Homo sapiens: one gene and its partners. The protein of the gene in region 4 interacts with the protein of the main gene of each other region in a biochemical or structural test. Each region holds a gene or a part of one and is shown on either strand. Other genes may lie near its edges.

Region 1 (3,500 bases), about 100 Mb from region 4:
ACCCTCAATGTTGCTATGCAATTGCTCTCTGGTGCAGCTGGGAACATCTGATCTTCAGTGATAGGATCATTCTCTCCTGCATCTTCCTCAGACAAATGGCACCTGCAACCAGCTGGCTTGTATCTTAACATTCAAGGCAAACAGGTTGTCATCTTAGCTGGGGTGATGTTGTTTTCAAACACTGCCTCCTCGAGGCAAGCTTGGGGGGAAAAAACTGTGCAACACGCACAGGCGTGCACACACCCCTAACACACACACATACTATACATATGTGCCCAAAATGTCAGGGAACAAAACAAAATACAGGTCTCATCATGCAATGAAATCCTCCATAGCAAGCATGAAACTATCCTGATAATTCAAAGGATGAAATGAGCAAAACCAAGTGTTTGAATATGACTGCAAGTTTCTCCCAGATAATTTTGTTGACTGGTATTGTAGCAAAAAACCAACATCTTTCAGCCTTGTAGTCTGCTCTTTTTTGGAATTTCAGGAAAGTTTCAGAACCTGCAATTGACTGAGAAAAGGGGGCTCATGTTTTCTTTTCAAATAGCTACCAGGATAACACAGTCAGTCTGTGAACCAAACATGTCTATTTCTTTCCTTTCTAAAATGTTTCAATTCCCAGGAAATGAGCCATGGTCTCCCACCTGGTGGCAGCAAGTGTAAGTAAGGATGTGTGAATTGGTTCTTTAGCAATGCTATAACTCTCTTGGGGGAGGGATGGGGCTTATATGAAGTAGACCATGTTTCTTTCTCTCTCATCAGCTGTGCTTGAAGAAAGACAAAATTTTGTTTATTCATTGGGTTTTGACCAGCTATGAAATGAAAATCACATCATACAAATGATTGATGAAAATCTGAGGGGAGATACACTTTCATGGCTTTTGGGGGAGATAAAAGGGGTCTGTGTATCCCTCCTGATGACTGCACAGTAATAACCATTATCCTCAAACCATATCAGGACAGCTTTTATGCACAAAACTGATATTTTTGTACATTTTCTTGCAAAATAGCAAGCATTTGTTTATATGATATCTGGTGATTCCTATCAATATTTTATTAGTGATTTCTGAGCTTCTCAAAAATAGGGGTGGCCTTTCTCAGTGCCTAGTTCAATGCAGCCCTCCTTGATTTTGCTTAATAAACACTTGCTGAAGCTTGAAAACTATCCATTTCCAGCAATGTAGAGGCTGCTGCTGTGAATGAATAAAAATTTGTTCTCATTGGTTTCAGAGTGAGAAGTAAATACTTATTTAAATGGCATGGAATATATAGCCCTTAAGGAAATACAGTCAATCTTTCCATTTTCAGAGTGGTTATTGGAACTATAATTAAGAAGCAAATTACTAACAATTTTTATTAATGGCTTGGAAAGTGTCCTTATCCCATGCAGTCCCAGCAGCAGCAGACTAATAATGATATTGTTAGCTTCAGGGGATAATAAATTTTTTTCCTAAGTGAACAGAGTATCTGCAGTGACTGTAAACAGATTTGGGATTATAGATTCAGATGTTTAACCTGTTGAAGGTCAGAATGAAATTACTTTCTTTTCTCTTCAGTTTTTCCCCCCTCCTTGCCAAGCTTTGATGATACCATCTGATTTATTTGGTGTATTCTAATAGTTCCTAAGCAGTCACTACAGGGTGTTCTAGAAAAGATAATGAAGTATTGGTCAGTGGTCTTTAGTTTCTCAGAGTACAATTCTTATGCACTTATTAAAATCTCCGACTAGGGCTTCTGCAGATCTGCAGCCCAAAGGGAAAGTGCCTCCAAGGAAAGGCAAAAAAAAAAAAAAAAAAAAAAAAGAAAAAAGAAAAAGAAAAAAATATCCATAGAAACCAGGAAACCATTCAGGGGTATTCTAATAAGGATTATATAGTTCCTTCTGCTCCTGTGGCACTTTACAGTTTACAGAGTGCTTGCCTCTGCATTATTAACCCTTTTATTTCCTTGAACAAGGCAGCAGGTGGGGGAGGGCAAAAATAAAACTTGACAGCTTATAGGATGTAATGATTGAATTTTCTATTGTAGATTTTTTTAAAAATCTGACATATGGCCTTTTGTGATACATAGGATCCTCATTTGTCTAAGAACAGTCTTTTAGCTGACATTTCATCAGCTCTGAATTTTTTTCCAAAGCGGTGGTTGCTGCTCCACTTCTGATGCTCCCAGAGGGGGCCAGCATAGAAGAGGAGCCAGAGAAGAAACGAGAAGAGGCAGAGACCCTGAACCGATTACTCACAAAGACCTTTTTTGTTGGTGCGTGTGTGTTTTGTAAAGGAAATAAATTGAAATCCTGCTAAGGATAGGGTGCCCGACCTTTCCAAAGCCCACCCACTGTAATTCTTTCAGTGGAAAAAAAATAATTTTAAAGGAAAAAAAAAAAAGCAAGCAAGCAGCCATTCTAAAGGGAGATGCCCCACCCTCACCAAAGCAAATAGAGCTCATTCTCAAAATAATAAAAACAAATTTATGAATTTTAAAAACGAAAAGAAAGGGACAGTGACCCCAGATAATGAAATTTATCTCTCCTCTGAAAATTATTTTAAGAAAAAAAAAGAAACAGCTTCTAAAAGGAAGTTATCCTCACCCTCATCAAAGCCCATGGAACTTATATCCCCCAAAGAAAAATTTTAAGATGAAAAAAGAGAAATCATCTTAAGTTAAACAGTATTTCTAACCTTAAAATATTCATGAAATTTGTAAACTTTATTTGACTTCATGGCTCATGCTTAATCTCTTGAGAAAATTAAGGGGGCAAAAATAAAGGGAAGGTCCCCCAACCTCATCAAAGCTTCCTGACATTATTTTCCCGATTACATAAAATGTGCAGAGGAGGCAAATCCTTAGAGATGGAAAGGAAATGAGGGAAGCAATATGGGAGGTGGAAAAGGGGATGATGGCTAAAGAGTACAGGGTTTCTTTTGAGGGTGATTAAAATGTTCTAAAATCAGAGAATGGTGATGGGTGCACAACACTGTGGATACAATAAAACCCACAAAATTGTGTATGTTAAGATGATGAATTTTATGGTATGTAAATTACATCTCAATTTTTAAAAATAGTTCAAAGAAAGATACCATCCCTCTAACCACAAGATAAGAGACCTATTATTCTCCCAAAAACAAAAAACAAACAAAATTGAAAAAAGGAACTAAAAGAAAGGGAGATCCTCTTAAAGGATCTTCAACCTCGCCAAGGATAATAACCTTTATTTGCCACCCCTTCAATTAAAAAAAAAGAAATTAAGGAAAACAAACAAAAAAAGGAAATCTTTTTAAGGGCAGATATTCTCAAAAATCATAAAAGTTAATGAAATTTACGAATCCTCCCCTCTAGATACACACATTTTAATTAAAAAAAGAAAGAAATATTAAAGGATAGGTCCCTGACTATACCAAATCTCCAGAATTTTTAATTCCAAGAAGCAGGGGCGCGGGGGGTGCGGGAGGGAGGGACAAAAGAAATACCACTCCTCCATGACTAAAGAGCATAAA
Region 2 (3,500 bases), on a different chromosome or scaffold from region 4:
ATGGAGTTTCACTCTTGTTGCCCAAGCTGGAGTGCAGTGGCGTGATCTCGGCTCATTGCAACCTCTGCCTCCGGAGTTCAAGCGATTCTCCTGTCTCAGCCTCCCAAATAGCTGGGACTACAGATGTGCGCCACCATGCTCAGCTAATTTTTTGTACTTTTAGGAGAGATGGGGTTTCAACATGTTGTCCAGGCTGGTCTTGAACTCCTGACCTCGGGTGATCCACCCACCTGGGCCTCCCAAAGTGCTGGGATTACAGGCGTGAGCCGCCATGCCCAGCCTGGACTATGTTTTCTACCCCAACCTTGTGGTCAGAGGTGACCATGAAACTGAGACCTGGCCAATAGGAAGTGGTTGCAAAAGGTGTCTCGCTTCCACGACTGGAACACAAAAACCAGCCCCATGCAACGCCTCTCCAGCTGAATAAAGAGGCCTCCTGGAGAGGAGGAGGACTGAGAGGAGGCCGAGCCGCAAGATGGTGAAAGTCCAGCTAGGAGTAAATGTATGGTGTTGTTCACCACCCTAGATGGCCCAAAAGGGGACTATAGCATGACAATAGGCATGGTCTTGGTTTCTTGTTTTCTTTTTTGAGACGGAGTCTATCTCTGTCTTGCAGGCTAGAGTGCAGTGGCGTGATCTCGGCTCACTGCAACCTCTGCCTCCCGGGTTCAAGCGATTCTCTTGCCTTAGCCTCCTCCCAAGTATCTGGGATTACAGGAGCTCAAAACCACGCCCGGATAATTTTTTATTTATTTATTTATTTTGTATTTTTAGTAGAGAAGGGGTTTTGCTGTGTTGGCCAGGCTGGTCTCCAACTCCTGACTTCATGTGATCCACTGCCTCGGCTGGTGATTTTGAATTAAGCCATTGAGAATCAGGGCTTGTTTAATAGCTAGCATTATTTGCACGATACAGTGGCTGCCTCCCTCATTGTGTGAGCTCTTTGAGAACAGGAATGGTACTTTATTGTAATGGATTTGCACCTGGCAAGAAAGAAGGCACCCTGCCTTCTTTCATGGTGGCACATGCCTGTAATCCCAGCTACTTGGGAGACCGAGCAGGAGAATCGCTTTAACCCAGGAGGTGGAGGCTGCAGTGAGCCAAGATTGCACCACTGCACTCCAGCCTGGGCTACAGAATGAGACTCTGTCTCAAAAAAAAAAAAAAGCAAAAGAAAACGTAGTCCAGGCTGGGTGCGGTGGCTTATGCCTGTAATCCCAGCACTTTGGGAGGCCGAGGCAGGTGGATCACAAGGTCAGGAGTTCAAGACCAGCCTGGCCAACGTAATGAAACCCCGTCTCTACTAAAAATACAAAAATTAGCTGGGCGTGGTGGCATGCACCTGTAGTCCCAGCTACTCGAGAGGCTGAGGCAGGAGAATTGCTTGAACCCGGGAGGCAGAAGTTGCAGTGAGCCAAGATCACGCCACTGCACTCCAGCCTGGGCAACAGAGCGAGACTCCATCTCAAAAAAACATAGTCCGTGTGTCCAGCAGTCGCTGCTGCAGGAGTTCATCCTGAACCCGTGTTGGGTGTGCTGGAGTAGAAGTATGGAAAAGCTGTGTGAGGGTGGGGATTTTGTTTTTGTTTTTGTTTTTTGAGATGGAGTCTCTGTCGCACAGGCTGGAGTGCAGTGGCATGATCTCGGCTCACTACAACCTCCGCCTCCCGGGCTCAAGCGATTCTCCTGCCGCAGCCTCCCAAGTAGCTGGGATTACAGATGTGCACCACCAGGCCTGGCTAATTTTTTTGTTGTTGTTAGAGACAGGGTTTTGCCATGTTGGCCAAGATGGAGATCTCTGGGGAGGGGTTTACCTTCCTGTTGGAGCTTGGATGGAGAAGGTGGGAAATCGTTCCTGGCAGGGGATGAGATGTCCAGGTCACAGAACTGCAGTTGGAGAAAGTGTTGCCTGAGACGTGTGGCGAATGACCACCCCTCAGTCGCTATGTCGTCCCTGCCAGCCGGTAGCGTTTGTTACACCCAAGGTTGCCCTCCCCTCTTTCATCCCAGCAGATGTTCAGACTTTGCTTCTCCCACTTCCAGCCCCTTACTCATGAGTACTTACAGCCCTTTTGTGGCCTGCGACGTAGCTCCTTGTTCCATTTCTGGGTTCCATGACCACTTCCGTGCTGGTCTGTTTCAGGCCTAGTCCCTGTCTGCTCTTTTCTCTGCGCTAGCTCCTATCTTCCCCTTTTCCTTAGTGTCATAGAATTAGTGGGTTGAAAGGAAGAGATCTTCTAGCCCACACTCAGTACAGGAATCCCTTCCAGATACTGGGCAGTGGGGAAATGCATTATGTGACTCTCATGACTTTAGATTCGAATGCCAGAATTATGTTGTATTGAGCCACAGTTTTCTTTCCATGCAATTTCTACTTGTGTTTACTTACTTCTAAGAAAAGCATTACAGAATTTAATGAAGCAAAGAATGATCTGTGAATCAAGCAGCTCCTAGAACCAAAATAGGTTCAGAGCCGCTCTCCTTTGTTTTTTTGTCAACACGCAGAGCAAGTTGGCTACCTCCCTTCATATGCTCGCCTCATAGTATTCAAAGACAGCTATCATGGCCACATTAAATCTTTGTTTCTTTGTTTGAGACAGGGTGTCACTCTGTCACCCAGGCTGGATTGCAGTGGTGCGATCTCAGTTCACTGCAACTTTCACCTCCTGGGCTCAAGCCATCCTTCCACCTCAGCCCCCTGAGTAGCTGGGACCACAGGTGTGTGCCAGCATGCCCAGCTAATTTTTTATATTTTTTGTAGAGATGAAGTTTTGCCATGTTGCCCTGGCTGGTATTGAACTCCTGGGCTCAAGTGATCCTCCCGCCCTAGCCTCCAAAAGTGCTGGGATTACAGGCATGCGCCATGGTGCCTGGACAGGAGTTTATTTTTGACCCTGTTAAGTTTGAGATGCCTGCTACACATTCAAGTGGAGATGTTGAATAGGCATTCAATTGGTCATGAGTTTGGGGCTCATGGAGAAGTTTATCTTATTATTATTATTTCTTTAAATGGAGTTTCACTGTGTTGCCCAGGCTGGCGTGCAGTGGTATGATCTTGGCTCACTGCAACCTCCACCTTCTGGTTCAAGCAATTCTCGTGCCTCAGCCTCCCGAGTAGCTGGGATTACAGGCACGCGCCACCACACCCAGCTAATACTTGTATTTTAGTAGAGATGGAGTTTCATCATGTTGGCCAATGTGGTCAGGAAGTTTATGTCAATTTGGGCATCATCAGTGATACATGCAGTTGAGCTATATTGGACACATGGCCAATTGACCTCACAGTCCGCAGGGCTTGTCCCCATGTAACTGCTCTTCTATCCCTATGCAAATTCATTTTGTAGATGCTAACGTTTAGCAGCTCATTGTTGCTGTTGAAAGTTCTTGGAACACTTTCGTAGTCTGAATGCTAGAAAGGATGGGTCCTAGGAATGTCCTCTAGGTTGTGGCAGATCCACTAATCAACACTGTGGTTGCTAGATTAACTTGGCCACAAGTGT
Region 3 (3,500 bases), on a different chromosome or scaffold from region 4:
GGATGAAAACCAGACACGACCTCATTTTCTAATCCAAAGAGCATGCTTTACTTATTAATTTGGCATTATTGGGTAGAAAGAAATGCCTTTGTCATGTTTCATCACACATATTCCACTTTTCACAGGAAGCAAATGTCTTTATTTCCTGTTTAACACAGGCTTCCAACCATGTCTCCTACCTCAGAGGTTTTCAAACCATTTCAGGCTATCAATAGGGACACAGTAGGCAACAGATTACTCATTCCAGTTCTTTGTACTTGATGGTTCCAAATAAATAAACCACGCTTCTCTGGGGGTAGAAAATGATGAGTTGTATGTAGTTTTGTCCATATCATGTAACCTATAGGTTTACTTTGCAAAATATGACACTGCTTTAAAGCAAGATCTACTGATTGCCCACTTCCTTATTACAATGCTTAAGTAAAAATTTCATTCATGCCTCATATTTGGAGTTGGCCTGAACTTTTCTGAGCACAGAATTTTGAGTGAAAAGTTGGCATCGGCCAGGCGCGGTGGCTCACGCCTGTAATCCCAGCACTTTGGGAGGCTGAGGCGGGTGGATCACAAGGTCAGGAGATCGAGACCATCCTGGCTAACACAGTGAAACCCCGTCTCTACTAAAAATGCAAAAAAAATTAGCCAGGTGTGGTGGCGGGCACTTGTGGTCCCAGCTACTTGGGAGGCTGAGGCAGGAGAATGGCGTGAACCCAGGAGGCGGAGCTTGCAGTGAGCAGAGATCATGCCACTGCACTCCAGCCTGGGTGACAGAGGGAGACTCCGTCTTAAAAAAAAAAAAAAAAAAAAAAAAAAAGTTGGCATCAAGCCTACAGCAAGTCTCTAGGAAGAGAACATTCAAAGAATGTTTTAAGAGACCACATGAAGTTGTTTGTTTCACAGGTTGAACATCCCTAATACAAAAACTGAAAATCAGAAATCCTCCAAAATTTGAAGCCTTTTGAATGCCAACATCCCACAAGTGGAAAATTCCACACCCAACCTCACGTGATGGGTTGCAGTCGAAACTTCATGCACAAAATTATTAAAATATTATATAAAATGACCTTCAGGCTATGTGTATAAGATATATATGAAATAATAAATTTTGTTATTTGACTTGGGTCCCTCCCCCAAGATATCTCTTATGTATATGCAAATATTTCAAAATCTGAAACACTTATGGTCCCAAGTATTTTGGATAAAGGATACTCAACCTGTAACTGGCTGCCATAGTCTACTCATTGTTAAATTAATTTTTGCATCGGAGTGGGAAGAAGAAGTAGAAATTAGCAAGCTGGGATATATTACAGGAATCTGTCACCCTTGCTTGCCAGCTTCTGTTAGACCACTGATGCAGGAAACCATGCAGAGGGGGCTCTAGGTAAGCAAGCACATATCCAGGCAAAATAGAAGGGGGTTGGCTTCTGCTTCCCTTACCTGCTCAAGCATCAGCTCTCTTAATCGTGCAATTTTCTCCCCATCTTCAGGGTGACTTAAGATATATTCTTTGACAAAGAATGCCTAGTAAGGGAAAGGAGAATCAGTCTACTTTAGTGGAGTACAAGGCAAGTCAAAGACAAGTTGTTTTTAAAGACCTGGCATCTTTATGGAAATGACACCATTACAAACCACATTTTGGGACAGATGGGCTGATTACTAGTGTAGGTGGTTGGTCAGAATGGGAACATAAGGAAAGAATTGTTAAAGGAAGATCAGTGATTGTACAATAAGTACCCTTGCTAAAATAAAGAACAAGCCCAAATCAGTAAGCTATATGGCTTGTATCCTAAAACAAACTGCCTTAAGATTCAGTGTGACCTAGATGGTGGCCTTACCTTCCAGGGTATTATATCTTTCTGTTTAAGAGAGCAGATGAAAGGTCCACTTAAAGTATCATCTAAGCAAGATCGGTCTTATCTTTTTTTTTTTTTTTTTTTTTTTTTTTAAATAAGAGATAAGATCTTCCTATGTTGCTCAAGCTGGTCTCAAACCAAAGTGCTGGGATTACAGGTGTGAGCCACTGAGCCCAGCCCAGATCAGACTTTTCTATGCCCATGAACTTCTTTGCTTAGAGAAATTATTTTAGACGGATATTTATTAAACAGTCCTAATGTCCTTTCTACTTTTATTCATGCAAGAATGAACACACACACACACATTTTTATTATCCAAATATAACATGTTGGGAAAATGGAGTTACTGGGCAATTACAAATGACTGTATGTTTGCTCTATTTAACAAAGGACTCTGTGTCAATCGCAGCCCTATGTTTGCGTGCTGATATGGGTACATAGTCTGAAAAAAGATTCATGAAACCCTAAGAAGTCACAATTGAAAACTTTCTCTGAAACAACAATACCTAATCCTTACCTCTTGATACCTGGAAACGCCACCATTAACTGCAGCATCTATAACTCCATTCAGGCACATAGTCAGGGGATTAATATTCTGCATCTGTCTTGTCTGACACTGACTAATCAGAGTCTTCAGCTGCTGATTCTTATTTTCTAGCACTTCAATTGCATTTTCCAGAGGACTCATTTCTACCTGAGAAGCAAATGAACATAAATATATATTGAATTTGTGACATTCAAGAAGAAAGACAAAGTAGTTTATCCATGTTCTGAATTATCTGTGCTCCCCCTTGGCTTCCATCAATATCTCTACCAGGGGCCATTCCGTAGAATAGACAAGGATGTGGAAGTCAAGTGGGATGTTCATTAGCAAGGTTTGGAAAGGGCAGGTAATTATACTTATTCATTGAAATGTGGTTTGGATAATCATCAATTCTACATTAGCACTGCAACAACCAATTTAATCCTTAAAATAATATCCAAGCATCTCATGTCTTTTAAAACTAGTTTTTTTTTTCTTTTGAAGGGTTAAATATTCAGAGACCCTGAATATTATCCCCTTTCTCATGCTTATTTGATACAAAGCACCATGGGAGATATAAAGATGCATTTATGGATCCTCTGATGTCAAGGAGCTTTCAGCCCAGTTGGGAAGATGGGACATATGCCACATGAACCTCATATATATATATAACAGCACCATAAGGTGGCACAGGATGGCACACAGTTGGGAATTATAGAAAACAAGATAATATATACTGCAGGATCTATTTGTTGGAGAGCCAAATAGAATCATAATGACTTAAAAATTCCAGGCTGTATGGAGGACCTAATTGTGAAAATGATAAAAGTGCTCTTCAAATGTATGTCATTGGGACTGCTATTGCCTTGAAGAGAAGGTCTGCCAAGCTCTCAGCAATCAAGTAATTCAGGACTACAATTAGCATATTTAAATATTGGTTCATTCAGGCAAGGAAACAAATTAGAGTTTTTAAAGGTCACTTGGATCATCTTAAACCAACACTGAAAAATCCTAGAATATGAAGACTGAACATTCATCAAAGACAAAGAGAAGGGAAGATAAGCAAGAACATAGAAGATTTTGTAACATGTGTAACCATCAAAAAGCACGTGTTCAGGGTATATAAG
Region 4 (2,439 bases):
AGGAGCTGCCTTGGCGGGGGTGGCAACAGCGGGGCCGGGAGGGGTCCGGTTCAAGTTGGAGTTGCCGGCCATGGCCCGCCGCAGGGGGCTCTCGGGCAGGGGCTCCACAAGCAGCGGGGTGCTGCGGCAGCTCTCCCCAGTGTTGTAGGCGCTGGTGCTGTCCTTGTCCGACTTCTCGGGCAGCTCGGAGATGTCGGACAGCTCGTGCTTCTTGGGCTCGCTGGCCGCCAGGTCGTAGAGGCTCTCCTCCTCCAGCAGCCAGGCCTTCATGCAGCGCTCACGCAGCTGCTGCATCTTCTGCGCCCGCAGTATGTTGCGGCACTTGAATTCCAGGTGCCTTAGCTCCTCCTCCAGCATGGCCATCTCGTGGCCCAGGCTCTCGTTGCGGTTGACGTCCAGGGCGCTGTTGCCTCCGGAGGCCCGGGGAAAGAGGAGGCCCAGCTGGTTGCCGTTCTCCAGGTGGCACTTGATCTCCAGGAGCTCACGGTAGCGCTCATACTCCTCATCCGTGAGGCCCGGGACGTCGCCCCCTCCCAGCCCCGCCCCCTCGGCCAGCAGAGAGTCCATGCTGAAATGGAAGTCCCGGCTCTGCAGGGCGTCCCCTTGCAGGCCAAACTTGCGCAGGCTTCCCGGGGTGTTGGTGGAGCTCGGGGGTTCGTCCCCCAGCAGGTCGTGCTCAGAGCTCTCTTCGTTCCGGGTGCTCTCGTCAGTCCGGCCCACCCCGCTGTCCAGCTCCTGGCTGTTGCTCAGGCCTGGGCCGGCATCGGGAGCCCCCTTCTCCTCTTCGTTTCCGGGCTAGAGCAGAAAGGTAAGTACCGCTCAGTTAGGTCCCACGGACAGGGATGTCACGGGATGTCACAGGAGGATCGGAAGGGGCTTCAGGCCTGGTTCATTTCCCTGCCAAGCATTGGGAGACCCTGCACAGCCTCAGCGCCTTCCACCCAGTTCTCTCCTCCTCGCCCTCCCCACCAGCGCCCTTTTCCTTCCTCACCTGCTGGGCAGGGGGTGATTTCAGTTTACGAGCACGCAGCTCCCCCTCATTCTCAGAGCCAAAGTCATCCAGGAAGTCATCCCGGTCGCTGTCCTTCCACCTTTTCGCCAGCTGTGGAGACAGGCCCTGGTGTCCCCACAGCTTCAAGGACCTCCCCATATACCCTTCTTGTCTGCTCTGGACCCCGCACTTGGCTTGTTTCGGTGAAGCTCAGCAACCTGGGGGCAGCGTCCCAGCCCCCTCAGCCTTCAGAGGCCAGGAGGGGAAACGGGCCCTGAGAGACCCCTGCCCACCCGCCCTCCATCAACTCCAGGTCGTTGGCACATCTGTGCCCTAGTCACGGCCAGCAGCTTCCAAGACAGAAAGCCTGATGTCGTGGCCCCGGGTCGCCCTGCCAGGCATACACACCTGACTCTCAGGTCGGGCCACCAGCAGGGAGATGTTGGTGTTCTCTTCCTGGCTCAGGATGGCCACCGCCTCTTCCCGGTTCTGGACGTCTACACCGTTAATCTGAGGCAGGCAGGATACAATCAACAAGCATGCTAGGGCTGGCCCTGGGGCGGACCCTGGGCGGGTGCAGGGAGCCCAAGCACTCTGGGCTCGGCTGGGCTAGGCTGGGGCTTGAGCTCTGGGAGGATGTAACTAAGTGGAAGGTACCAGGGAGAGGGCGGCCTGACTCTTGCAAGAGCAAATGTGTGCTCAGGAGAGCATGGAGTGGGGCAGAGGGAGAGGGGCCAGGAGGTTTCAGAGCAGCAGGGGCCCTGGATGCCAGCAGATCCCATAGGCACACGGGAGCCACTGGGGTGAGTGGGCAGGAGAGAGATGAGACTCAGCCCGGGTTTAGGACACGGCAGGCTGCTGGGCCTCAGGGTTAGCTCTTAGTGGGAGAGAGCTAGGGACTGGCTAAAGAGAGGTGGCTGGGCCGACGGGCACAGCGGGGCCTTGGGCCAGGCCTGCAGCCTGCAAGTGCTCACCTGGATGATGCGGTCTCCCTCACGGATCCGGCCGTCTTTGGCTGCAATGCTGTTGGGATTTACCTGCAGGACACACGCATCTTGGGGACTTGGTGCCTAACATGCCCTTTCGGTAGAAGGGGGCAGGCTCACCTCAGGGGCCCCCAAAGCAAGCTGAAGGCTCTCTGGCTCCCCTTCCAGCTCTGAGCCCCAGGAAGCAGAGGCAGAGGCTGTGGAGTAGTCACCTCTCCCCGCCCCTGCCCTGCACTCCTAGGCTCTTCTGCACGGAAGCCTGTGCTTTTGGTCAGCCCCGGGCATTGGTGGGAAGTAGGACATTGTCCATCTGGAAGGGTGGCTTTAGTGGGATGCTACTAGTAGGGAGGGGAGCGAGGGGCCATCCCCCTCCTGGGGATACACAAGACATCTGCCCAAGATGGGTTCGGGAGAAGGCTAGACAGCAACCCTGTTGCTAGTTCTCAGGCCCATCTGCTGTCC
Region 5 (3,500 bases), on a different chromosome or scaffold from region 4:
CAAACATGCAGCTGCCTGAGGCAGAGGGGACCGGAGGACACAGAGCTCAGAGAACACAAAGCCTGCCTGGCTGGGGGCAGAGCTGGGGGAGGGGCAGCCGCTATCCCAGACCCCTCCCCCTCCCCCAGCCCCATCCCATGCTGAGTCAGAGGTTGGGAGTTTCCCATAGCTGGTCCCTGGAGCTCTACAGGAAGCCCCTGTCTCCAGGGACAAGGCGGCTCCCTGCCCACCCTCAGGGCCCCAAAGTTCCGCAAGGGCACCCCACAGGCAGCAGATGGGTGGGACTCGCCAGGGGCGGGGCTGATATAAGAATGCGCCAGCAACCACCACTGTTGGGGCAGCCCTGTGCCAGGCACTACAGGCCCCTAATCATCTCCCAGCGCCACCCAAGCCCACGAGGGGACCAGAGGCACCGCCCCTCAGGTTAGCATTGAGGCTGAGGCTCAGGAGACTCGATGCTCCGGGGTCCTCCTGCATATAGGGAGCAGCACAGGGTCGAGACCACACATACCCCTGCCCAGGCACACACACCCACGCACACACACCCCTGCCCAGGCACACACACCCACGCACACACACCCCTGCCCATGCACACATACCTGTCCATGCACACACACATCCCTGCCCACGCACACACACCCCTGGCCAGGTACACACACCCACGCACACCCCTGCCCACGCACACACACCCCTGGCCAGGCACACACACCCACGCACACCCCTGCCCATGCACACACACCCCTGCCCACACACATACCCCTGGCCAGGCACACACACCCACGCACATACACCCCTGCCCACGCACACACACCTGTCCACGCACACACACCCCTGCCCACACACACATCCATGCACATACACCCATGCATACACACCAGGGTGCCGGATGCTCCCGAGCCACCCTCCGGGCCTTGGGGCCAGCCCACTCACACACACCCCTGACCACGCACACACAGCCATGCACAGACACCCTTGCCCACGCACACACACCTACTCACATACATCCCTGACCACGCAGATACACAGACATCCCTGCCCACGCACACACACCCACTCACACACACCTGACCGAAAACACAGCCACTCACACACACCCCTACCCACTCACACATAACCCTGACCACGCATACACACCCCTGCCCACGCACACACATCCCTGCCTGTGCACACACCCGTCCATGCACACACATCCATGCACACACCCGCGCACACACAACCATGCATACACACCCCTGCCCCACACCCATGCACACACACTGCTGCCCAGGCACACAAACCCATGCACACCTACACACACACATACCTGCCCACGCACACACAACCCTGTCCACACACACCCGTGCAGACACACCCGTGCAGACACCCCTGCCCATGCATACACACCCTTGCCCATGCATACACACCCCTGCCCCCACACACCCATGCATACACACCAGGGTGCTGGATGCTCCCGAGCCACCCTCCAGGCCTCGGGGCCAGCCCACTCACACACACCACTGACCATGCACACACAGCCATGCACAGACACCCCACCCCACACACACACCCACGCACACACACCCCACCCCACCCCACGCACATACCCCCGTGCATGGCTGCAGCTGCATGTCCAGCCTCTCTACCTCCAGGCCCTGCAACCAGAGCTCAGGTCCAGCCACCAGACACCTTTGGGTGGAACATGACCCAGAGCTGCAACTCGAGGCTTCCTGCCTACAGGTGAGCAGCTTGTGGCCACCACTGCCTGGATCATGCAGCCCTCTGTGCCTGGACGTCCTGGTGGGGTGGTGCTTGGCAGTGGGGCAGGGTTGTACCCCTGGGAAGTGCTCCACGTCTTAAGAACGACCAGGATGCCACAGCCCCAGTGCTTAGCCCGGCCCTGGGGCCAGCTCTTGGTGGCCTCAAGGACCCTCAGAGGTCATCACACTCCGCGGGAGCCAGCAGCTGCTCTAAACCATCCACATCAAGGTGCAGCGCAGGCTCCCAGGGGCCTGCTGATGACAGTGCGGTGCCCACGGGGGGAGGCACCTTCCTGGCAGAGGACCCTGTGTGGAAGGCTGTGGCGTGGCCTCACCTCTGACTGGCACCCAGGACATCCAGGATGTTGGAGAAGAGGTGGTGGTGCTCCATCTGGGTCACGGTCGCCCGCAGCTCCTTGGACTGCAGGAACTCCTCCACCAGGATGCTCAGGCTGTGCTGGTAGGAGAACTCCGACGTGAGGATCTCGAACATGGCCTGTGGAGAGGGGCCTAGGTGAGCCCCACAGTGACGCTGGACACGGGCGTGCCTCGGTGACCAATGCTTGGAACAGGAGGACGTGACCCGGGTGGCAGGGGCAGGTGGGGACAGGAACCCCAGACACACCCCTGGATGGGGCTGTCAGAATGGCCAGCTTGGAGATGCCAGCCCGACGTCCCTGGATGCCCCTGGCTGGGTGCCTTATGAGCCGGCTGAAGCTGGGCAACGACCCCCGTCCTTGTCAGAGAAGGGGGTGATGGCAGCCCCTGGACTCCGAGGATTCACCCGGTGACGTGAAGGGGCTCCGTCAGGGCCTGGCGCAGGTGGAAGCACAGCCCGGGGCTGTGTGAGGCGCTGGTCAGCGTGACAGGGCCTGGCACTGGAGGTGGCCGCAGAGGGATGGCTGGGTGGTGCCACCGTGGCTGCTGCCCCTCCCCGGGTGTTGCATGGCCCAGGCCATGGGGGACAGCCCTCCCGCCCAGGGCCCTTTTACCTCCTGCCTTTTCCGCTCCTCAGTGGAGAGCTGGTCCAGGATGCCCAATTCCACCACCTGGGGGGACACAGGCCCAGGAGCTCTCGGTCACACGTCCTAGAAGCCTGGGCCAAAGTCTCCCTTCTTTCCTCCTCCTGATGGACCAGGGCCAACATGGACAGCCACCCCACAGGGCTCAGGTAGGTCCGATCCTGGAGTAGGCCTGTCCTGCCGAGGGCCTATCCCCGTCACCTTCCTCTCTGTGTAACCCGCCTTGGGTCAGCCCCCCGCTCCCCCCAGCCGCCAGAGCCCCAAAGCAGCCCAGAAAGAGCATGGGGCATCCAGAGGGAGAGGCCAGAGGGCGGGGGGGGATCTTGTCCCACAGATCTTCCCGGCAGATGGAGAGGTGCGGAGCCCACCCAGGGAGGGAGTGTGGAGGGCAGGACTGTGACTCAGACCCCACCTGGGCGAGGCGAGTCAGTGCCCTGCCTGGAAGCTATGGGTGACGCTGTTTCCGCCCGGGCTCCCTCCTCCTCGGGGCCCACAGCTGGCGGGTCGCCTTGGCGGGAGTGTGGCTCGATTGGTAGAGCACGTCAGGACCAGGAGGGCTGCCACACCGCCCAGGGGTCCCCTCTGCAGGACTCAGGCCACCCTGATTCGTGCTCTGCTCCTCACTGGGCTGGGCAGAAAGGCCGCCAACAGCGCCTGGGCCAAGGGTGAGTCCCCCATTCCCCAAACCAGTGCCTCCTTCCCATGCAGGGTCGGAAACTCTGGCAGTTACCAGGGTGCGGTA
Region 6 (3,500 bases), on a different chromosome or scaffold from region 4:
GGCCCCAGGGCATGGTGCCCGCACAGTACCTGCAAAGGCGGGCGATGACATGGGCCTCAAAACACAGTCTCTGCAGGACAAGGACAGCAGGGCTCCCCCCAGCTCCGGTAGCCCCCTCCTCACCTGGGGATGTTCAGGAAAACAACACACTGGGGTTTCAGGTCCTGGATCTTGGGAGTCAAGTCCATTCCATCACACTGGAGGCGGGCGGGGAGGGTGTTGAGGTGCATGTGCCAGGTGGCCTCCGCCTCCCTCCCTTCCGGCCCACCCACCCACGGCAGCCTGGCCCCGCTCACCACCACTCGGATGTGCTTGGCCAGGTCCTTGGAGCTGCCCATCAGGAAGTCAGAGAAAGCTGTCTGTGGGAGACAGAGGGCGTCACCATCTGCTGACAGAGATCTTTCCTCACCAGCACCCGGCAGGGCTCCTGGGGCCTGGTGGACACAGGTGGGCACGGGCACGGGTGGTAGAAGAGGTGGGCACAGGCGGGGGTGCAGACCCCACTCACCCCGGCGTAGAACATCTTATTCCGAAAGCGGCTGTTGAATTTCTCTGGGTTGGCCTCTGGGTGGAGACAAGCAGTGGGGGCCAGTGAGTCACCCCAGCCTGCCCAGGTGGGGTTGGGGGAGGGCTGGGATGGATGCCTTCACTGGCGGGAGCAGGGTCTGACCCTCCCGGGGACACTCCTGTGCCCACCCTGCCCTGGCCTCAGTGGGAGGCTGCCAACCTCGAGACTCGTGGAACTCCAGGGTGACGTGGGCGTCAAAGCCCAGGCTGAAGTAGTTGTTGAAGACATCCAGGGGCAACTGGAAAAAGGTCAAGGGACCAAAATGAGGGCTGGGCCTCACAAATGTCCCCGCTCCAGGGGCCTCGTGTGGCCGAGCCAGCTCAGCCCATCTGTTCACAGGCTTTTCCTGGTCAGCAGCGTCCGCTAGGGCTCAGCCCAGCTCACCCGCTGTCAGGCACAGCCCTGCTCTGCCTGGTGGCTCCTGGGGGATTTCCCTGCGTGCCTGCAGCATCTCTTCCCTGTCAGCTCCCCTAACACTTCTTCCTGACATGCCATGTGGAGCACAACAGCGAGGCTTGGTTTTGCTCACTGCTTAGAGAAGTGCCTGGCAGGTAGCAGGCGCTCAGTGCATGTCTATGGAATAAAGCAGCATCTTCTGACCAGGCGTGGTGGCTCATGCCTGTAATCCCAGTGCTTTGGGAGGCCGAGGCAGATGGATCACCTGAGGTCAGGAGTTCAAAACCAGGCTGACCAACATGGTGAGACCCCATCTCTACTAAAAATACAAAAATTAGCCGGGTGTGGTGGCGGGTGCCTGTAGTCCCAGCTACTCAGGAGGCTGACGGAGGAGAATAGCTTGAGCCCGGGAGGCAGAGGTTGCAGTGAGCCAAGACTGTGCCACTGTACTCCAGCCTGGGTGACAGTGAGACTCTGTCACAAAAAACAAAAAACAAAAACAAAAAAAAAAACAAGAAAAAAAAAAGAAAACAGAAAAACAAAAATTAGCCAGGTGTGGTGGCACCTGCCTATAATCCCAGCTACTCAGGAGGCTGAGGCAGGAGAATCGCTTGAACCTGGGAGGCGGAGGTTGCAGTGAGCTGGGATTGCGCCACTGCACTCCAGCCTGGGTAACAGAGCGAGACTCAGTCTCAAAAAAAAAAAAAAAAAAACAAAAAAAAAACACAGAAAAAACAGCATCTTGTGAGGCAAGTACTATTATTCCCATCGTACAAGGAAGAAGTGGAAGTTGGAGAAATGAAGAGACACGCCCGAGGTCCCAGAACCAGCAAGTGGAAAAGTGGGATCCAGTCCCCAGTCACCTGCCCTGCCCCCCACCAACCCTGGCCAACTTACCCGGTCGGTGGCGCCTTCATCTCGGTCCTCAGGCCCTGCCTCGGGGTTGGGCTCAGCGTGGAGGTCCCAGCGGTCCAGCTGTACCACGTTCCCCTCCTCCACGTGGGAGAGGATCTTGGACACAGGCTCATCTGTGTAGCCCTGGGGGAGCAGGCAGGGACTGAGCCCTCTGTGGCTGGAGAGGCCCCAGCTGCACCCCCCTCCTATGGGTGCTTACCCCACCCCAGTTGAGGGTTCGGGCCAAGTCGTTGCCAGTACCCAGGGGCAGGATGGCAACAGGGGGTGGCGGCTTCAGGCGTAGCTGGTCCAGGGTGGAGAGGATCCAGCCCACCTGGGGGAGGAAGAACAGAGGCAAATCAGGCCCACAGGGACCCCGGCTTCAGGCCCAGCCCTGGTGCTCGGCTGGCCCATGCGGGGAGCTCACCGTGCCGTCGCCCCCGCACGCCAGGATCCGCAGGTTGTGCACTTTGCGGTACATCTCCAGCCTGGGCTCATGGGAAGATGGCAGTGGGGTCAGGGGATGTGTGCTGTACCCCAGGAGTGAGGCAAGTTCCCCCCCATGTCCCCCACAAAACCTTGGCAAGTACTTACGCCTCCTTGGGCCCTCCCTGGCTCAGGTCGAAGACTTGTCGGGGATTGAGATACCAGAGGAAAGACTGGATGATCTTTGCACCCTGGATGGGATGGGGAGCCAAGAGACAGTCAGGCAGTGGTGGGACGAAGTGGGAGCAGCAGAGGGAGAGGGGTGTGACTGTGGGAACCAGGGCCAATAAGGGGTGAGGGGTGGAGAAAGGACAGGATTTTCTCAGGATCCCTGGGAAAGAGGGATTGGGGTAGAAGCCAGAAACGGGCTCTGGGAACAGCTGCTGGCAGACGGGCTGGACCCCAACCCCCGCCCGAGCCCTTAGCTGAGAGGCAAGGCCGCGTTCACCTGGTTGCCCCCACTCTTGGGGTTCACAAACACCAGCAGGGGCTTCATGAGCGGGGAGGGGGTGGGCCTGATGATGAAGGGTCTCCAGCGGCCCTCCTGGGAGACAAGGTGAGAGGCTGTAAGCTCCTTCCCGTCCAGGACACCCTACCATCATCCTTAGCAGGCCCCCTGGGTGACTTTGTTCCCTCTTTGTACCCTCACGTACCATCTCTGGGCCAGATCTTACCAGGCCACAGAGCAGAAACTGGCATCTAATCCTGCCTTCCTCAGAGGCCCCAGAGCCCACACAGACCCCCACCAGCTGGCAGCATTAGCTGGGGGTGGAAGTTCTGTACCCTGAGCAACAGACCCCTCTCTCCTGCTCCCCTGCAGCCTCTGCCCAGCCTGGGGCTGACCTCAGGCCCTTTCTTGCTGGACTTCCTCTTGAAGGATGCCCTCTTCTTCTTCTTGCTTGCTTTCAGAGTATTCTGCAAGGGAAGCAGGGGTGTTGGTGACGAGGTGGGCAGGCTGGGGTAGCTGGCAGACCCCAAGTGCGTACGGGGCATCAAGGGTGCAGGCAGTACTCACCTGGGGCCTCCGGGCGCGGAGGATCCAGGTGGGCGGGATGACCACGGCTGCGTGGACCCCCAGCGAGCACGGCTCCTCGATCTGCTGCAGCATGAAGCAGGACACCTTGCTGTGGTACTGAGGAGAGCGAGGGGCCGGGCT
Region 7 (3,500 bases), about 140 Mb from region 4:
TTTATAATCTTTAGTATTTATTAAATACCAGGGGATCAATGATTGGTACTTTACAGTTCTGTGGCCTTTTAAAATTCTACCTTTTACTTTTCTTCCAGACATTACGTTTTTAAGTTTGTTGTAAATATGGTTTACATGCTCTTGGCATGTCATACAAAGTGCTAAATCCATCATTGCTGTACCTGTGGTTTCCTTAATCTTGGGGAGCCGATGGCATCCATCTCTCAATGTGCCAAACAGGGGTTCGGTGTTAATGGCTGTGTGCAGAGCAGGCACTGTCATCCGTGGACACATCCCTTCTGTCTGTGGGTGCAGTTCCTTAAAGGTGGCTCCGTGGTTGGGAAGCCCAGGGGCTCTCTCCTCTGAAGGAATGTAATTCACGCCTTTCCCAGAAGCGTCAGGAATCAAGTGCTTCCCCAGGGAGGGGCAGAGCGGCGACTCCACGGGTGTGGCACAGGCACTGCCACTGCTGCCTGTGCCACAGCCTGCATCCACTGAAGAGCCTTGGGAGCTCTGCAGAGAAAAATGGCCCTCGCTTTGCAGTGATGACATCCGCTTGGCCAAGTGGTAGTCACAAAGGCGGGCCACACTCTCATCAGCCTCAGGAAGCTTGGAAGGATGGTCGCAGGTGGACGAGTCAGCGTCCTCTGGGTTATCTAAGTCTTTGGCTGAAGATGCACAGGTCACGTCAGTTAAGAAGCGGTCCCCTTGACCAAGTCCTGAGCCATCACTGGTTTCTCCATCAGGAGCTCCTTCTTCCTTCCCTTCGGCCTCCCTTGCCCCAAGACCAGAAGCTCTTGGAAAGGTTTTCCCTGTTGCTGCTTCTAATCCACTTTTTTCAGCCATCCCACCTTCAGTGGCCACATACCATCTTTGACTGTCCTTGCGAAAGGCAGTTCTCTCCAGATTAAAAGTGCTCAGGTGTTGACTGTCTCGTGAAGACACAGTACCAAATTTACCACTGGCCTCCTCCTCCATCTCTGCCGTTTTGGTCCCCTGCTGTTTTTTTCCTGTTGTGTTCCCATTAGGGGGTGCCTTCCCCTCACCATCGGCCAGCTTGCTTTTCCTTTTGCTAGTGCAGGAGTATGCCACCGACCCCATGTGCAGTTTGCTAAAATAGTCAGTGACCGACTTAGTCTCCATAGTTTCAGGCTCCATCTCCATGTGGTCTGAGTGAAGTAACTGCTTGGAAGGCACAACTTTGGGCGGGAGGTCGGTTGCTGGCCTAGCAGCCAGGGCGTGCGAGGACTTTGGAGGCAAGCCCCCAGCGGGGGTCTTGGAGGCCGGGAACTCGGTCTGCTCTTCTGCAAGGGGGTGGTAGCCTTCGTGAGTGGCCAAGAACATGCGGGAGAGGTTTTCTGACTGTTTTTGTGCTGTGGCCAGTTCAGAACTCTCAGTCATTTCAGAAGAGTTAGTTTCATTGCCCGAGTCTGACGAAGACTCAGGACTATAAGCCCGCAAGATGGCTACACCTGCATGCCGTAAAAAACAAGAACTGATTAATGGATGCATCAGAGGCACTTGGAGACATGTAAGAAAATGGGACTCGTTATTACTAAAACAAAATACCAAGTTTTTCCCTTTTCAGTAAGGACTCTGAGTTTATTGCAGTTTTTCCAGAAATGGGGGTGGGGGGAGATGTGCCTTATGTTTTTAAAAAAAAATAACAAAGGAAATCACATACACACAAAAAAACCCATGATGGCAGTTTCAGCACATTTATGAAATGGGACATGTGTGAAATGGAGAACACCACGTAACAGGACTCCAGGGGCAAATGGCTTGGAAGGATGGAATGATATGGTTATCAGTGAATGAATGTAACAATTGTGAAAGAACCTGAATTGTCACTGGTCTGCTGTTCTTCTGACACGGATAGAGCCTCTAGAGCTCCCAGCGTGGAGACGACGGCATTATCCAGTCCCTTCTCACACTTGCCTTCGGCGCTGGTGGGCACAGCGTCAATGAGGGACACGGGGATCTCATCATTTTGCAGGCTGCTGCCTTTCTCCTTGTCCTCGGGGAAGGAAGCTGCCTGGCTCTGAGAGTCCTCTTCATCTGAACTGTCTCTAAAGCCAGGTGGGGGTGCGGCAATGGCCATGTTCAAGGAACGCAACAGGAAGTCATCCTCATTGTCATCACCTTCTGGAGGGGGCAGGGATGTGAGGTCAATGATGTCATCGCTTGACCCAGACAGGTTGAGGATGGCCGGCTGGTTCATCTCCCCCACCACGAGGTCCTCCTCGCAGCTCACCTCGTCCTCGTCCTCCGCGTCATCAGTGTTTTCTGCATAACAGATGTCATGCAAGAGGGGTTCCTCGATCCCCTCCGCGGCCTGGAAGCTCTTCACATCGCCTATGTTTGCATAAACAGAATTTTCCACAAACTGGATGCCCTCTGCCTCTGGAGTGAGATCCAGGCCCTTCATGTCATTGGCACTGCCAATGTAGAGATTTCTCTGCTTCTCCAGCATTTCAGGACCCTCATCTAGTAGCGTTTCATAGCCAAGGGTTGGGGGACTAATACCATCATCCAAGGCGAAGTCTCCAAAAATAAAGGACACTTTAGCTCCTCTCGGAGATTCCTGTGCTTTCTTCAGAGTTTCTGGTCCTGAGAGGGTCAATAGGGACCGCTGAGCTAGACTTCTGTAGTCTGCCTCACAGGGGGCCTCCCCGGGCTGGCTCAGCTGCTGGTTAAGTCCATCTGAACTATAGGCATTGTCTATGTACAAGTGCCGGTGCTCTTTTGGACACATGGTGCTGTCTGTGATCTCCACCGTCTTCTGCTTTGAATCTATGTATGTTATCTGGGCTTCTTGTTCCCCTTCGCCAATAAAGGTGGTCATTTGGGGTATACAGTTCCAATCTGGGCCAAGGAGGTTATGCTTCCCCTTGTTTTCAGGTCCTAAAGAGAAAGAATCACGCAAAGACACATTACTGTACTGTCTGGTTTTGGGTGGGGCGGGGGTGGGAGGCTCGTCTCTGTTTTTTAACTTAATGGCTTGTAGCATCACTTATGTAAATACAGTTTTTCAACTACCCAAATATAGTACTTATTGATTTAGGCTTCAGGTGTAAGAATTCCTTGGGTTAGGAGAACCGACCTTAACAAAATTGATACTGCATAAACTGTAATTGCTATTTGATAAAATGTAATACCATCTGGGGGTAGGGAAGTATAGCTTAATTCCATCTGACCCTTGGTTCTATTATTAAAAGGCTTCATTCATATCTACAAATGTAAATATACAACATGTCTTTTACCCTTAAAGGTGAGATTTCAATAGGCCGTTATTCCAGAACATTAATTGTTCTTTTCCTTGTAAGGTGAGATTTAATATTCCCTACTTCATGGAGGAAGATATTGAGTGTTTTCCTCATTGAATTCAGAGACGGTCAAGGATCGTCAGAGTTTTACCATAGTTTTTAGGAAATTAAGATAAATGTTGTAATGATAGTACAAAACTTCTATCTTCAGTCTTTTGATATCCTAGTGGATGT

Evidence for each region.
Region 1: the proteins of PDZD4 (region 4) and DGKK interact in a test that uses a peptide from one of them, tested with the Homo sapiens proteins (one large-scale study listed by IntAct).
Region 2: the proteins of PDZD4 (region 4) and ABCC4 interact in a test that uses a peptide from one of them, tested with the Homo sapiens proteins (one large-scale study listed by IntAct).
Region 3: the proteins of PDZD4 (region 4) and DOCK4 interact in a test that uses a peptide from one of them, tested with the Homo sapiens proteins (one large-scale study listed by IntAct).
Region 5: the proteins of PDZD4 (region 4) and ARHGEF16 interact in a test that uses a peptide from one of them, tested with the Homo sapiens proteins (one large-scale study listed by IntAct).
Region 6: the proteins of PDZD4 (region 4) and DGKZ interact in a test that uses a peptide from one of them, tested with the Homo sapiens proteins (one large-scale study listed by IntAct).
Region 7: the proteins of PDZD4 (region 4) and FRMPD4 interact in a test that uses a peptide from one of them, tested with the Homo sapiens proteins (one large-scale study listed by IntAct).

Annotation. Positions count from the first base shown.
Region 1 is NC_000023.11:50,464,326-50,467,825, reverse strand, and holds part of DGKK (diacylglycerol kinase kappa), read left to right. Parts: intron 1-3,500. UniProt on the Homo sapiens protein: Diacylglycerol kinase that converts diacylglycerol/DAG into phosphatidic acid/phosphatidate/PA and regulates the respective levels of these two bioactive lipids.
Region 2 is NC_000013.11:95,291,452-95,294,951, reverse strand, and holds part of ABCC4 (ATP-binding cassette sub-family C member 4), read left to right. Parts: intron 1-3,500. UniProt on the Homo sapiens protein: ATP-dependent transporter of the ATP-binding cassette (ABC) family that actively extrudes physiological compounds and xenobiotics from cells.
Region 3 is NC_000007.14:111,744,900-111,748,399, forward strand, and holds part of DOCK4 (dedicator of cytokinesis protein 4), read right to left. Parts: intron 2,545-3,500; coding exon 2,368-2,544; intron 1,519-2,367; coding exon 1,435-1,518; intron 1-1,434. UniProt on the Homo sapiens protein: Functions as a guanine nucleotide exchange factor (GEF) that promotes the exchange of GDP to GTP, converting inactive GDP-bound small GTPases into their active GTP-bound form. Involved in regulation of adherens junction between cells.
Region 4 is NC_000023.11:153,804,106-153,806,544, forward strand, and holds part of PDZD4 (PDZ domain-containing protein 4), read right to left. Parts: intron 2,029-2,439; coding exon 1,966-2,028; intron 1,502-1,965; coding exon 1,400-1,501; intron 1,103-1,399; coding exon 992-1,102; intron 796-991; coding exon 1-795.
Region 5 is NC_000001.11:3,468,165-3,471,664, reverse strand, and holds part of ARHGEF16 (rho guanine nucleotide exchange factor 16), read right to left. Parts: intron 2,786-3,500; coding exon 2,729-2,785; intron 2,233-2,728; coding exon 2,072-2,232; intron 1,666-2,071; coding exon of another isoform or gene 1,584-1,665; intron 1-1,583. UniProt on the Homo sapiens protein: Guanyl-nucleotide exchange factor of the RHOG GTPase stimulating the exchange of RHOG-associated GDP for GTP. May play a role in chemotactic cell migration by mediating the activation of RAC1 by EPHA2.
Region 6 is NC_000011.10:46,371,463-46,374,962, reverse strand, and holds part of DGKZ (diacylglycerol kinase zeta), read right to left. Parts: intron 3,477-3,500; coding exon 3,360-3,476; intron 3,260-3,359; coding exon 3,188-3,259; intron 2,889-3,187; coding exon 2,793-2,888; intron 2,536-2,792; coding exon 2,453-2,535; intron 2,347-2,452; coding exon 2,286-2,346; intron 2,193-2,285; coding exon 2,079-2,192; intron 2,003-2,078; coding exon 1,862-2,002; intron 807-1,861; coding exon 728-806; intron 565-727; coding exon 509-564; intron 360-508; coding exon 297-359; intron 198-296; coding exon 124-197; intron 30-123; coding exon 1-29. UniProt on the Homo sapiens protein: Diacylglycerol kinase that converts diacylglycerol/DAG into phosphatidic acid/phosphatidate/PA and regulates the respective levels of these two bioactive lipids.
Region 7 is NC_000023.11:12,715,473-12,718,972, reverse strand, and holds part of FRMPD4 (FERM and PDZ domain-containing protein 4), read right to left. Parts: intron 2,905-3,500; coding exon 1,840-2,904; intron 1,473-1,839; coding exon 183-1,472; intron 1-182. UniProt on the Homo sapiens protein: Positive regulator of dendritic spine morphogenesis and density. Required for the maintenance of excitatory synaptic transmission. Binds phosphatidylinositol 4,5-bisphosphate.